Linked DNA regions of Homo sapiens: region 1 is linked to region 2. The links come from fine-mapping of genetic effects on gene expression. A gene starts in region 2. The other region holds a variant in brackets. All regions are shown on one strand. Distances are from middle to middle.

Region 1 (5,338 bases), 23 kb after region 2:
TTAAAAAAAAAAATGGTGGAAGAATATCTTTCTTATCTAACCTTTGTTGCTGTGGACATGACTTATAAGCCTAATTAAAGTTAATTAATTCTTAGTGTGTCTAAGTTAGACATACTATTTCCTGACTGCCTTGGAATGGGTGTGAATTTACATGAGCACTTATGTGCTCAGCTTAGAAACTAGACTAACGGTAAACTTTTAGTCTAAGATGCTACCTATTTTTTTCTACCCTGACAGCTACTGAGGCTGAGAAGTTCACTTTACCCATTGTCTAATGTATTTGGGAAAGTGGCATTTATAATACTTTGTAGGTTGACAGATACTACATTCATTATTTATATAATGCTTCCTATTCTTCTTAACTTGGGTAAATCTAACTCATGGTATCTTTCGTATGTGTCTATCCAACCGAAGGATTGCTATCTTCTCTTTAAGTGTTTTTCACTTCCCTACTTCCACCACCCCAAAGTGGAAGCAGTCTCTCTTCTTTTGAGTCCACATGGCACGTTAAAGATCATTGTAACGTCATACAACATTGAAAAGAATGTCTTACATTATCTTGATTCTTGTATTTACTATACTAGATGATAAACCCCCTGGGCAGAATGCATCTGATCTGTACTTATCCTCAAAAGTAGCTAGCATGATGTCCCACATTGGTGCTCAGTAATATGTTTCAGTTAAATGAACAAGAGAGCAGAGGTATGGCCTTGATGTTTCCAGAGAAGGCAGCTGAGGCAGATAATTCCATGATTTGCCAAATCCAAATAACTTAATGTCATCATCAGTGGGCAAGTCTAGAACCCTAATATCCTGGTGCTCAAAATTAGTGTTATCAATTCAGTCTTCTCCACATTAAACAATTTCCAATTCCTTTGAGGCCTGGTGTGATGGATTCTGTCTTTCAAATGCTTTTTTTCTTTCAGTGACTCTATCGTTCATAAATGTTAAATAAAACCCTCACTCTGTTATAAAAATATAGACTTTAAAAATTTTCCAAAGTAAACACTCCAGAGAAAGGTAGGCGGGCTGAATAGGCTGCTGTTGTCCTTCTTACTGCCCAGCGTCACTGAAATTTTCAAAGGCTCCTGTCCTCCTCGCAGGTTTCTGCCACCTCTTTCTGCCAGATGAACAGTTTCCTGAAGGGTTCCAGTTTGACACTGACGATGTGAATTTCCCTATCGATAATCTGTGCTTTGTTGGGCTCATCTCCATGATTGACCCTCCACGGGCGGCCGTTCCTGATGCCGTGGGCAAATGTCGAAGTGCTGGAATTAAGGTAGTGCCCAGGCGCCTCCTTGGCTTCATCTCTTAGTGCCTTGGGACACCCTACTCAGTGAATGTTGCCTTTTGAGGTCCAGATGGCCAGCTGTTCTATCTCACCTGGAGTATTAATTTCTCATCTCCAAAGCTTTACTTCCACCCAGAAAAGACCAGATAGTATTAAAATATGATGGTGTAAACACACGAGGAATTAAAAATTTTTTGGAAAGCAATTGTGTAAAAAAGAAATGTAAGCAAAGTAAAAACAGCAAAAGACTTGAAGTTTTAAAATACTTGCATTATTCTAAGTTAATGTACCTTATGCAATGAATGGCATATCTTCTGTGTTTTCAGTTAACTGTTTGTTAATGAGTGTTTGGTGTCCTCTGTGTATCTGTCTTTTTTTAAGTAGCTGAATATTACTCAAGTGCACTAATATCCTGTTGCTGGGTATTTGGTTTCTGTTTTTTACTCTCAGGATTTTATTTTATTTATTTTTTGAGACAGAGTCTTGCTCTATTGCCCAGGCTGGAATGTCATAGCACGATCTCGGCTCACTGCAACCTCCGCCTCCCAGGTTCAAGCAATTCTCCTGCCCCAGCCTCCCAAGTAGCTGGAATTACAGGCACCCGCTACCACGCCCAGCTAATTTTTGTATTTTTAAGTAAAGATAGGGTTTCGCCACGTTGGCCAGGCTGGTCTCAAACTCCTGACCTCAGGTGATCTGCCCACCTCAGCCTCCCAAAGTGCTGGGGTTACAAGCGTGAGCCACCACACCCGGCCTACTCTCAGGATTAATACTGCCCTGAAAAGCTTTGTAGAAGTTATTTCCTCACCATTCCGACTGCTTCTTTTTAAAGTATATTCTAAGTATAATCACTGCATCAAAAAATAACAATTTTGAATTCTTGTCACATGTTGCTTTTCCTCCAAGTTGTGCCAATTTGAGAATGCTAGCCAGTAGCATGTGGTGTCTTCACAGTCCCACCAGCATCAGATTTTTATC[C/CTTT]TTTTTTTTTTTTTTTTTTTTTGCTGGTTTTAGTAATTTTCAAGTATTTTTATGTAACTCTGTAGAAGGAAAAATAGACATTGTGTATGCTAGTGATTGTATACCAAGATAAAACCTGAGTATTGCCTTTGTGTTTCCTTTCTGTGGATATATATGTTTATATTTTTGGCTAATCGATGTTTATTAGTTTTATATTTGCATTCCTTTCCTTTTGATAGTCTAAGCCGAATCATCCTTAGTATTTACTCTTGCCTACTGGATATAAGACTTTAAGGTCATTTACTTGGCAGTTGCATTCAACACATTGTCTTGTTTATTACAGGTCATCATGGTCACAGGAGACCATCCAATCACAGCTAAAGCTATTGCCAAAGGTGTGGGCATCATCTCAGAAGGCAATGAGACCGTGGAAGACATTGCTGCCCGCCTCAACATCCCAGTCAGCCAGGTGAACCCCAGGTAAGGCAGGAAGCTCAAATCACAGTCTGCTGTGAACAAGCAAATAGTGATGGTTTAAAATCTTCAGCGTGGTTCTATAATGGTTTGCATCTAGGCTTGCTCTGAGTAGGAAATGTACCTGCACTGCCAGAAAGCAACCTTGTCATTCCTAAGAAGGGTTTTAAGTAAGAGCAAGTCATAATAATTAGCACTTAGATGGTATTTACTGTTCTAAGAGCTTGATATGGTGACCTATTATTTGCAGAGCAGGGAAGGTAAGGATTCAAGAGGCTTTTGAAGTACCTCAGAACTGGTGAAATCATGCAGTAAATTCAGCAGTCTAGCTTCTGATTTCATGCTGTTAACCACTGAGCTCTACTGCCTAGCACCTAGCATCTTGACACTTTCCAGGTCCACACTAACAAAATAAAATAAGGAAGGGACAATTACTTAGGCCATTCAGGCAAACACAGGAGACATTTGGCAATGAAGTAAAACAGATAATAGCAAATTGGTTTTGTTTTAAGGTTTAGGGCCCTTTCACCCTATGTTACGGTTAGAGGAGGGTTTGGTCTTGTATCAGCTCTGCCACTTTCTAAAACTTGGTTATATTTCTTTTTTTCTTTGATGGAGTCTCGCTCTGTCATCCCGGTTGGAGTGCAGTGTCATGATCTTGGCTCACTGCAACCTCCACCTCCTGAGTTCAAGTGATTCTCCTGCCTCAGCCTCCCAAGTAGCTGGGATTACAGGCCCCAACCACCATGCCCGGCTAATTTTTGAATTTTTAGACCACCATTTTGGCAAGCTGGTCTCGAACTCCTGACCTCAAGTGATCCACTCACCTCAGCCTCCCAAAGTGCTGGGATTACAGGCATGAGCCACACACCCAGCTAAAACTTGGTTATATTTCAGCATGTCTAATAAAGATAGGGAAAGGAAGAATACAGACAGGCCTGCCTTAGAGATCATCATGAGCCTCAAATGAGATAAAATATATGAAAATGCTCTGTAACCTGTAAAGTACTGAACACTTAATAGCTTTTATGTGCTGGGGAAAATTCCTTCTTTGTTTTGTTTACAAAGTGATCTGCATAAGAATATCCCCTCTTGAGGTGATGGACACATGCTGGTGATGTGATGCGTGACTTTTTTTTTTTTTTTGTCCTAATTCTAGGGATGCCAAGGCCTGCGTAGTACACGGCAGTGATCTAAAGGACATGACCTCCGAGCAGCTGGATGACATTTTGAAGTACCACACTGAGATAGTGTTTGCCAGGACCTCCCCTCAGCAGAAGCTCATCATTGTGGAAGGCTGCCAAAGACAGGTCAGCCAGCACAAGGATCAGGCTGCTTTGGGCACTATTGGCTTTAGGGATTGGAGTTCCAGTGGAAACAGAGCAACGGTGATGGATGGATGCATACCTCGCTGTATTAGACTCAGTATAAATAGGCCAGTAGGAAGCTCATAGGCATAGAGAGGGTGACTTGTTAATGGTTTAGCAGTGACAGAAGCACTTTAAAGTCCAGGTGTCCACTGTGTCCCAGAGCCTGACCGCTCCGTGGAGTCATCTGATATGGGGTCCTAGTATTTGCAATAGAGATGTGAGTGGTCAGACTACAGGGCGTGCATACAGGAATGGCATTTTCTGGAGTGCCACCCACCAGAGTCATTACTTTGAGTAGCTCTTGTTAATGCTGGGGGCTATGTTTGTTGTCACTTCTCAGTTCTGTTATTTGGTGTAGGGCCTGTGTGAATACTTGCCTGTGACGGTTCTCAGGCTTCATAAATAGTCTCAATAGGAAAGGAGCAGTGTCTGTAATGAGTGCTCAGTGGGGGCATGCATCGCACTATTTCCATCGCTAGGAAAAGTGATTGGTATTAACCCGTTTTCCCTTTTCTGGGGTAGGGTGCTATCGTGGCTGTGACTGGTGACGGTGTGAATGACTCTCCAGCTTTGAAGAAAGCAGACATTGGGGTTGCTATGGGGATTGCTGGCTCAGATGTGTCCAAGCAAGCTGCTGACATGATTCTTCTGGATGACAACTTTGCCTCAATTGTGACTGGAGTAGAGGAAGGTGAGAGCTATTTAAGGTGTACACCAAGATCTTATTCAGATACTGCCCATTAGCATCCATTTCTGTATACTTCTTGGATATGTTCAGTTTCCAGTGTGCTTGTCTCATAAGCTAACAGTAAAAAATCTTGGTTTTCATAGGTCGTCTGATCTTTGATAACTTGAAGAAATCCATTGCTTATACCTTAACCAGTAACATTCCCGAGATCACCCCGTTCCTGATATTTATTATTGCAAACATTCCACTACCACTGGGGACTGTCACCATCCTCTGCATTGACTTGGGCACTGACATGGTGAGTGTCACAACAGTCACAGATCGATAGTAGTGAGGTGTGAGCTGTGTCTTCATTCACTGGCACTATGCTCCCAGCATCCATGAGGCTGGCGTTGGGAAAAGAAATTCTCAGGACCAGTATCCAGTGTGTGTCCCAATCCCGGCTTCACAGAATCAGTATTACCACTCTTCAAGGCAGCAGTTAACATTTGTTTATCAGATGGGAATCTTTATTTTTGTATACTTCACCTAAAAGATTTTTAAATGGGAGGGCAAGAA
Region 2 (5,376 bases):
AGGATAAGCAGCAGACAGAATAGAGAGCCTTTGCTTTCTTCACCCTCTCTTCTAGAATCCAAATTTGTCCCCTGCACTGGAGTTAGAAAAGCTACCTGAAAGTCTTGCCACTATTCTTGGAATATTCAATACCAATTACTCCCTGGGCCTCAGTTTCTTCATCATAAAATGAGGGAGCTTGATGTTTCATCTATAAGGTTTCATTTCATTCAGAAGCCACTCTTCCAAGGGAAGAAAAGAAGGCTTTTTCTTAAAAAAAAAAAAAAAAAAGGACTTTTCCTCCTTTGCTTACCCATTTTCCAAGGTGTCTCTCTCATATCTGAGATTTCCTTCTGCGCCTCAGACTTGGTCATGCCTTACCTTTTTCTTTACCTCAAAGACTTGTGAGAATTCAAGGGCACTGTGCATCTGAAATTACTGTGTGGCATCAAAAGCAAAATACAGATTTAAGATAATGTTTCTTATATTTTTTGCCCTTTCTTCACACCGGAACACAGCTAGAACTCTGGGATCCTCCTGAAAGGACCTTCAGCAATTTTCAGTTGCCAAATAAATAGCTCTAGATACAAAGGGAAGTGCCTTGATCTATCAGGGTTATTTTGTTGAGTGAATGAATGAGAATTTTACTTATGAGGGGAGAAAAAGGAGATCAGCTGGCAGGAGAAATCTACGTTGTTCCGACCCGTGCTTTATATATTTAGTTGTTGCCGCGGCACTTTTCCCATTCAGACCAGGGCCCAAGGAGTAATTAATCTTTGTTTTTATTTTTATTTATTTATTTTTTTGAGATGGATCCTCACTCTGTCACCAGGCTGGAGTGCAGTGGCGCCATCTCAGCTCACTGCAACCTCCGATTCTGTGGTTCAAGCGAATCTCCCGCCTCAGTCTCCCGAGTAGCTGGGATTACAGGCATGTGCCACTACGCCCAGCTAGTTTTTTTTTGTATTTTTAGTGGAGACGGGGTTTCACCAGGTTGGCCAGGATGGTCTTGATCTCCTGACCTCATGATCCGCCCGCTTCGGCCTCCCAAAGTGCTGGGATTACAGGCGTGAGCCACAGTGCCTGGCCCAGGAGTAATTAATCTTAAACAAGCTATCTTTAGCAAGCAAAAGCATCTTACAAAGTACAGTAACTGAGGCTATCAAGCATGTAAAGAAAGCATTTTCTAGAAGCTTAGAGATGGATCCCCGAACACTCTGTAACCCTCTGTTAACAGTCTAAGGAATTCTGTTCTGAATTTGGGGGCTCTTCTCCAGGCAGTCAGGGTTTTGAATTCTATTTACAATTCCTCTGCTCTCTATGGCCTAGAATGATTGAACCAAGTCTCTAGATCACTGTAGGAGACATCAACCTTTAACAATACATTCTTGAGGAGAAGAGACTCGTGTAAGAAACTATCTTGTAAGAAGGGATGAGAATTACCCTAATGATGTAACTGACAACACAGTTTCTAGTTTTTCCTTTCTTTCCTTCCTTCTCCATTTTTTCCAGTTTCATATCCTTGTTTGTTCATGCTACATGAATACTTGAAGTTGATAGAGTTGGCTTTAACTTAGGAACCTTTGCTTAGAAAGTCAATATCCTGGCCTTTCCCAGAGTACTTGACTTCCTGCAAACCTTGTTAATAATACTTTGTTTTTTAAAATGTTGGAGAACTTCAGCCATTGCAGCCTCTTGCTAAGAAGCAAAAGCTATAATGACAGAGAAGCCCCAAAGTGCAGTGGAACCAGGGATCTCCGGGGAGAGTGGTGGTTTCCTGGGCCCCCCCAGAGAACCCAAGGCTGTGCTGGAGATGCTGCCGTGACAGGTGGAGGCGTGGAGAGGCACCTGGCAAGTCCTCAAACGCCTCCCCCTTGATTTAGCTCCTCTAGCTAAGGATACGCATTCCTTTGGGTTTCAGGTTTTTCTTCCCTAAAAAGAGAATCCCCAAACTGGACAAGCAGGTTACATTCACACAATAGCGTGAATGAATTCGCTGGTCGCCCTTCAGATTCTCATTTTGGAATCTCGAAGAAAGAGAGGTGGTGGGAGGAGGGCGCTTGAAACTTCTGGCGATGCCAGTTCAGATCGATTCCAGCTATGACGGAGCGGGAAGTGGATAAAGAGGACCCCAAGTCACAGGAGGCACTCTGAGAGCACCAAGCGCCCGGGGAGGCCATCCGCAGGTGGGCGCGGGGCCTGGATTCCACAGAGGGGCGGAGTCCCTCAGTCAGGCGCTGGCTGCAATCACACCCGAGCGCCAGCCCCCTCCAGCATCCCTGAGTCCCAGAGGAGATCGCCGAAGCGCTGGAAAAGCCGTTCCGCCCACGACTTCTGGTGCCGGGTCGGCGGCGACTGGGGGAGCCCAGTTCCGAGACCGTACCGCACCCACTGCGGACCTCCTGGGCCCTACATAGTAGGCGGGTCATGCAGGGCAGCGGGAGGAGGGGCGTGGGAGGGCCAAGGCCGCCGAGTCCCCGCTGTTCAGCCAGCAGGAGCGCCCCGCAGCCCTCCCGGGACACGGTGGACACGCTTGTCCCAGACCTGGGCGCCCTCCTGCCGGGAGCCAGGACTGGCCGCAGCAGGCGCTGTCCGGGCCCGTGGGCGGGGTTTCGGGAGGGGGCGGAGCCAGGCCCACGGCCGGTGTCAGGTTGCTCCGGTAACGGTGACGTTTCGCGGCGTGGGCGGGGCCAGCACGCAGGTTGCATATTTTAGGAAGTGAGGAGGAGGCGCGGGCTGGAGCTGCGGCGGGGTCTGGGGCGCAGAGCAGCGGCGGGAGGAGGCGGACACGTGGCAACAGCGGTAGCAGCCCGGGCGGCGGCAGCAACAGCGGCGGCGGCATCGGCCCGAGCCGCCGGCCGCCCTCCCACCCTCCCGCCCCGCGGCAGCCCTAGCTCCCTCCACTTGGCTCCCCTGGTCCCGCTCGCTCGGCCGGGAGCTGCTCTGTGCTTTTCTCTCTGATTCTCCAGCGACAGGACCCGGCGCCGGGCACTGAGCACCGCCACCATGGGGAAGGGGGTGAGTGTCCGGCGCGCCCGGGGAGGGGGCTCGGGGAGCCCTCGAGGGGAAGAGGAGGAAGTCGGGAGGGCGACCGCGGCCAGCGGGAGGCGGCGGAGGAGGAAGCGGCGCCGCGTGGAGTGGGCTGGCAGAGCCGCGCGGCTTAAAAGACGACGCAGTTTGGAAATGGAGGGAGCGCAGTAACGGGGGGCGGGGGAAGGGAGCGCCGAGGGGCTGGAGCGCGGCATTGCTTAGGGGGGTGGGCGGACCCTGGGCGGGGGCTGCGCGCCCCGGAGGCCGAGCGGGCCGGGGGCTCCGAGAGGCGGTGCTTGGGAAGCCTCGGGGCCGGGAGGAGGGGGCTTGCAGCAGCGGGGGCGGCCCCGGGACTGAGCCGGCATCCCTGAGCCTGGCTCCCCTCCCTGCGACCGCCGTCACCTCCTTCTCCTTCCTTTTCCCTCCGCCCTCCGTGCCCTGAGGAAAGGCGCGCTCCTCCCCTTCCCCTGGGGCGCTCCGCCGGGGCCTCCTCCCGGGCCTCCGTTCCCGCCGCGGCCCCGGTTCCGGCGGGGGCAGCCTCCGGGTTCGGGGCTCCTTCTCCTGGGGACGCTGGGGCTTAGCTTGCTCCGCGCAGAGGCGGCCGCCCTCCCCCAAAGAAAAAACTGGCTGCTTCTAAGTGCGAAGCCGGCTGGGCGGGCTGGTGCCAGAAAGGGTGTGTCTTCACTGCCCTAAGATGGCCTTTAAGGTATACTTTTGAGGGCTTTCTTGGGCCACTTTCCGTAAACACAGGATGCACCGATGGCAACTGGAGTTGTCATCCGATGGTGGGGAGAGGCGTGCAGATTTTTTTTGAAGGGACGAGCCCTGAAGGAGGATAGGCAGACCCACCAGGGCCTCAGGGTACAAGAAACCCGAAAAAGGACTGGAGGCTGCAGGCAATACGGTGGTAGGAATCTCTGCCGGTTTCCAGCGTCGCGGAAGCACCAAAGGGCGGTCCCTGAAGGAAACGAGGGGTCTTGGGGCTGGAGAGCGGCGCGGAGCGTGGTGGGAATATCGTCACAACGCCGCTGTCCTACATTTCTGTAGCGAAGACTTGATTACCCCTAGCTATTACCCGTGCAGGAGACTGGGCCCTGGACCCCAAATGAGCCAAAGTCTAGTTGAGAAAAATTTACACAGAATAACCTCGGAGTTCATGGGGTGAAAGTGACCATGTCATGAGAATACAAATGGGAGAGAATCCACTTCGTTGTCTCCAGGGTTTAGCACAGTGCAGACACTGAGTAGGTCTTTGAAGGCCCTGAGGCTTCTGGGTGTAGACAGAGTGTCGGGAGCAGAGGGAGGCTGCACTCCTTGGGGACTCTAAGGGAGTTTTAAAGGAGGTAATTGAAAGGCTTGGACCTGGTGGGGAGAACAGGCACAAGTGGAAATGCACAACTCGCCTCGCTTTTAAAAGCATGCAGCGTGGAGGGCTGGTCCAGGTCAGGTGGCATCAAAGAGCGGAGTACAGGGCCTCTCCATTCCCCTGATGGAGTCTGGGTTAGTGGCCTGTGCTTTTACCACACCGTCAAACCCTTGATCATTTCTGTAAACATGCACTTTAAAGCTCATTCTTTGTCTCTCCTGCCTTAAAAGAAAAAGAAAAAAGTTTACTTCCTGAGCTAATTTTGGGGGGTTTAGACATCACAGATGTGTGCCCCAAGCCTAGGAAGGTGAAGTGACTTGCTCAAGGTCAAACGGTTGGCTAGTGACAGACTAGGCGTCCCTGATTCTTGAACAGCCTGTGGCCTCAAGCCTGAACATGCATTTACTCTTTAACATTGAGTTCTTTATACAGAACTCAGAACTTCGGATGAAACGGGGTATTTGTGATGTTGAATTAATAGGCCATGGAGATGGTTTGGGTAACTAAGTTATGTCCATTTATCTAGATGTCTCCTTTATAACCACACACAGGCACACATGCACAGTAGTGATGCGGTGGTAACCCACCTGAATAGTTAGTAGAGCTTAAACCCAGATGTCTTACAACAAAATGTATAGTGGCTAGCAAACACAAGATTAAATTACAGCTGCGAACACTGGGATGATGAGCTGCTTGGCTGCTGGGTGGTAGTTAGCATTTTGAGTATTCTGATACATTAAACATTAGTTTACTTGTGTGTGTGTTTGTGTGTGTGTTTGTCCTGTGACTTATTGTGAGCGTCCAAATGTTCAGAAGAATATTTCATGTTGGGATTTTTCCACATGGGGATTAAAATGTGGGTGGAGAGTGACTAAAGCCCTGCTGATAATTGGCTAACAAGGAAGCCTGTGCCGGCAGCTAATTTTTAAGGTCATTGTAAATTTCTTCCCCTCCTCTCCTCAGTACCCTTTGTGGCCTAGCTTTTGATGATATTTCAGGTG

Which allele goes with the higher level. Positions count from the first base shown, and alleles are read on the strand shown. Sizes are in standard deviations (SD) of each study's normalised expression.
For the expression in monocytes after Pam3CSK4 of the gene that starts at base 2,718 in region 2, allele C in region 1 goes with a lower level than allele CTTT (moderate effect, 0.61 SD a copy in Quach 2016).

The links. PIP is the estimated chance that this variant, and not a neighbour inherited with it, causes the effect.
Region 1: its variant is the best candidate, but not a certain one, in a credible set for the expression of ATP1A1 in monocytes after Pam3CSK4 (Quach 2016, PIP 0.78).

What each region holds. Positions count from the first base shown.
Region 1 is chr1:116,394,007-116,399,344 of GRCh38, forward strand. ATP1A1 (ATPase Na+/K+ transporting subunit alpha 1) reads left to right here. Exons shown (of 23, transcript NM_000701.8): 13 at 1,104-1,279; 14 at 2,592-2,728; 15 at 3,882-4,032; 16 at 4,615-4,783; 17 at 4,924-5,078. All of the region lies in intron 2 of ATP1A1-AS1 (ATP1A1 antisense RNA 1), which reads right to left. Among named protein-coding and RNA genes, the nearest start is that of ATP1A1-AS1, 22 kb to the right of the region's middle. The variant C/CTTT (reference allele first, on the strand shown) is at 2,270.
Region 2 is chr1:116,370,527-116,375,902 of GRCh38, forward strand. It overlaps ATP1A1 (ATPase Na+/K+ transporting subunit alpha 1), which reads left to right and starts at 2,718. Exons shown (of 23, transcript NM_000701.8): 1 at 2,718-2,997. The coding sequence starts at 2,986. RefSeq lists silencers at 2,345-2,874, 3,305-3,604 and an enhancer at 3,975-4,094.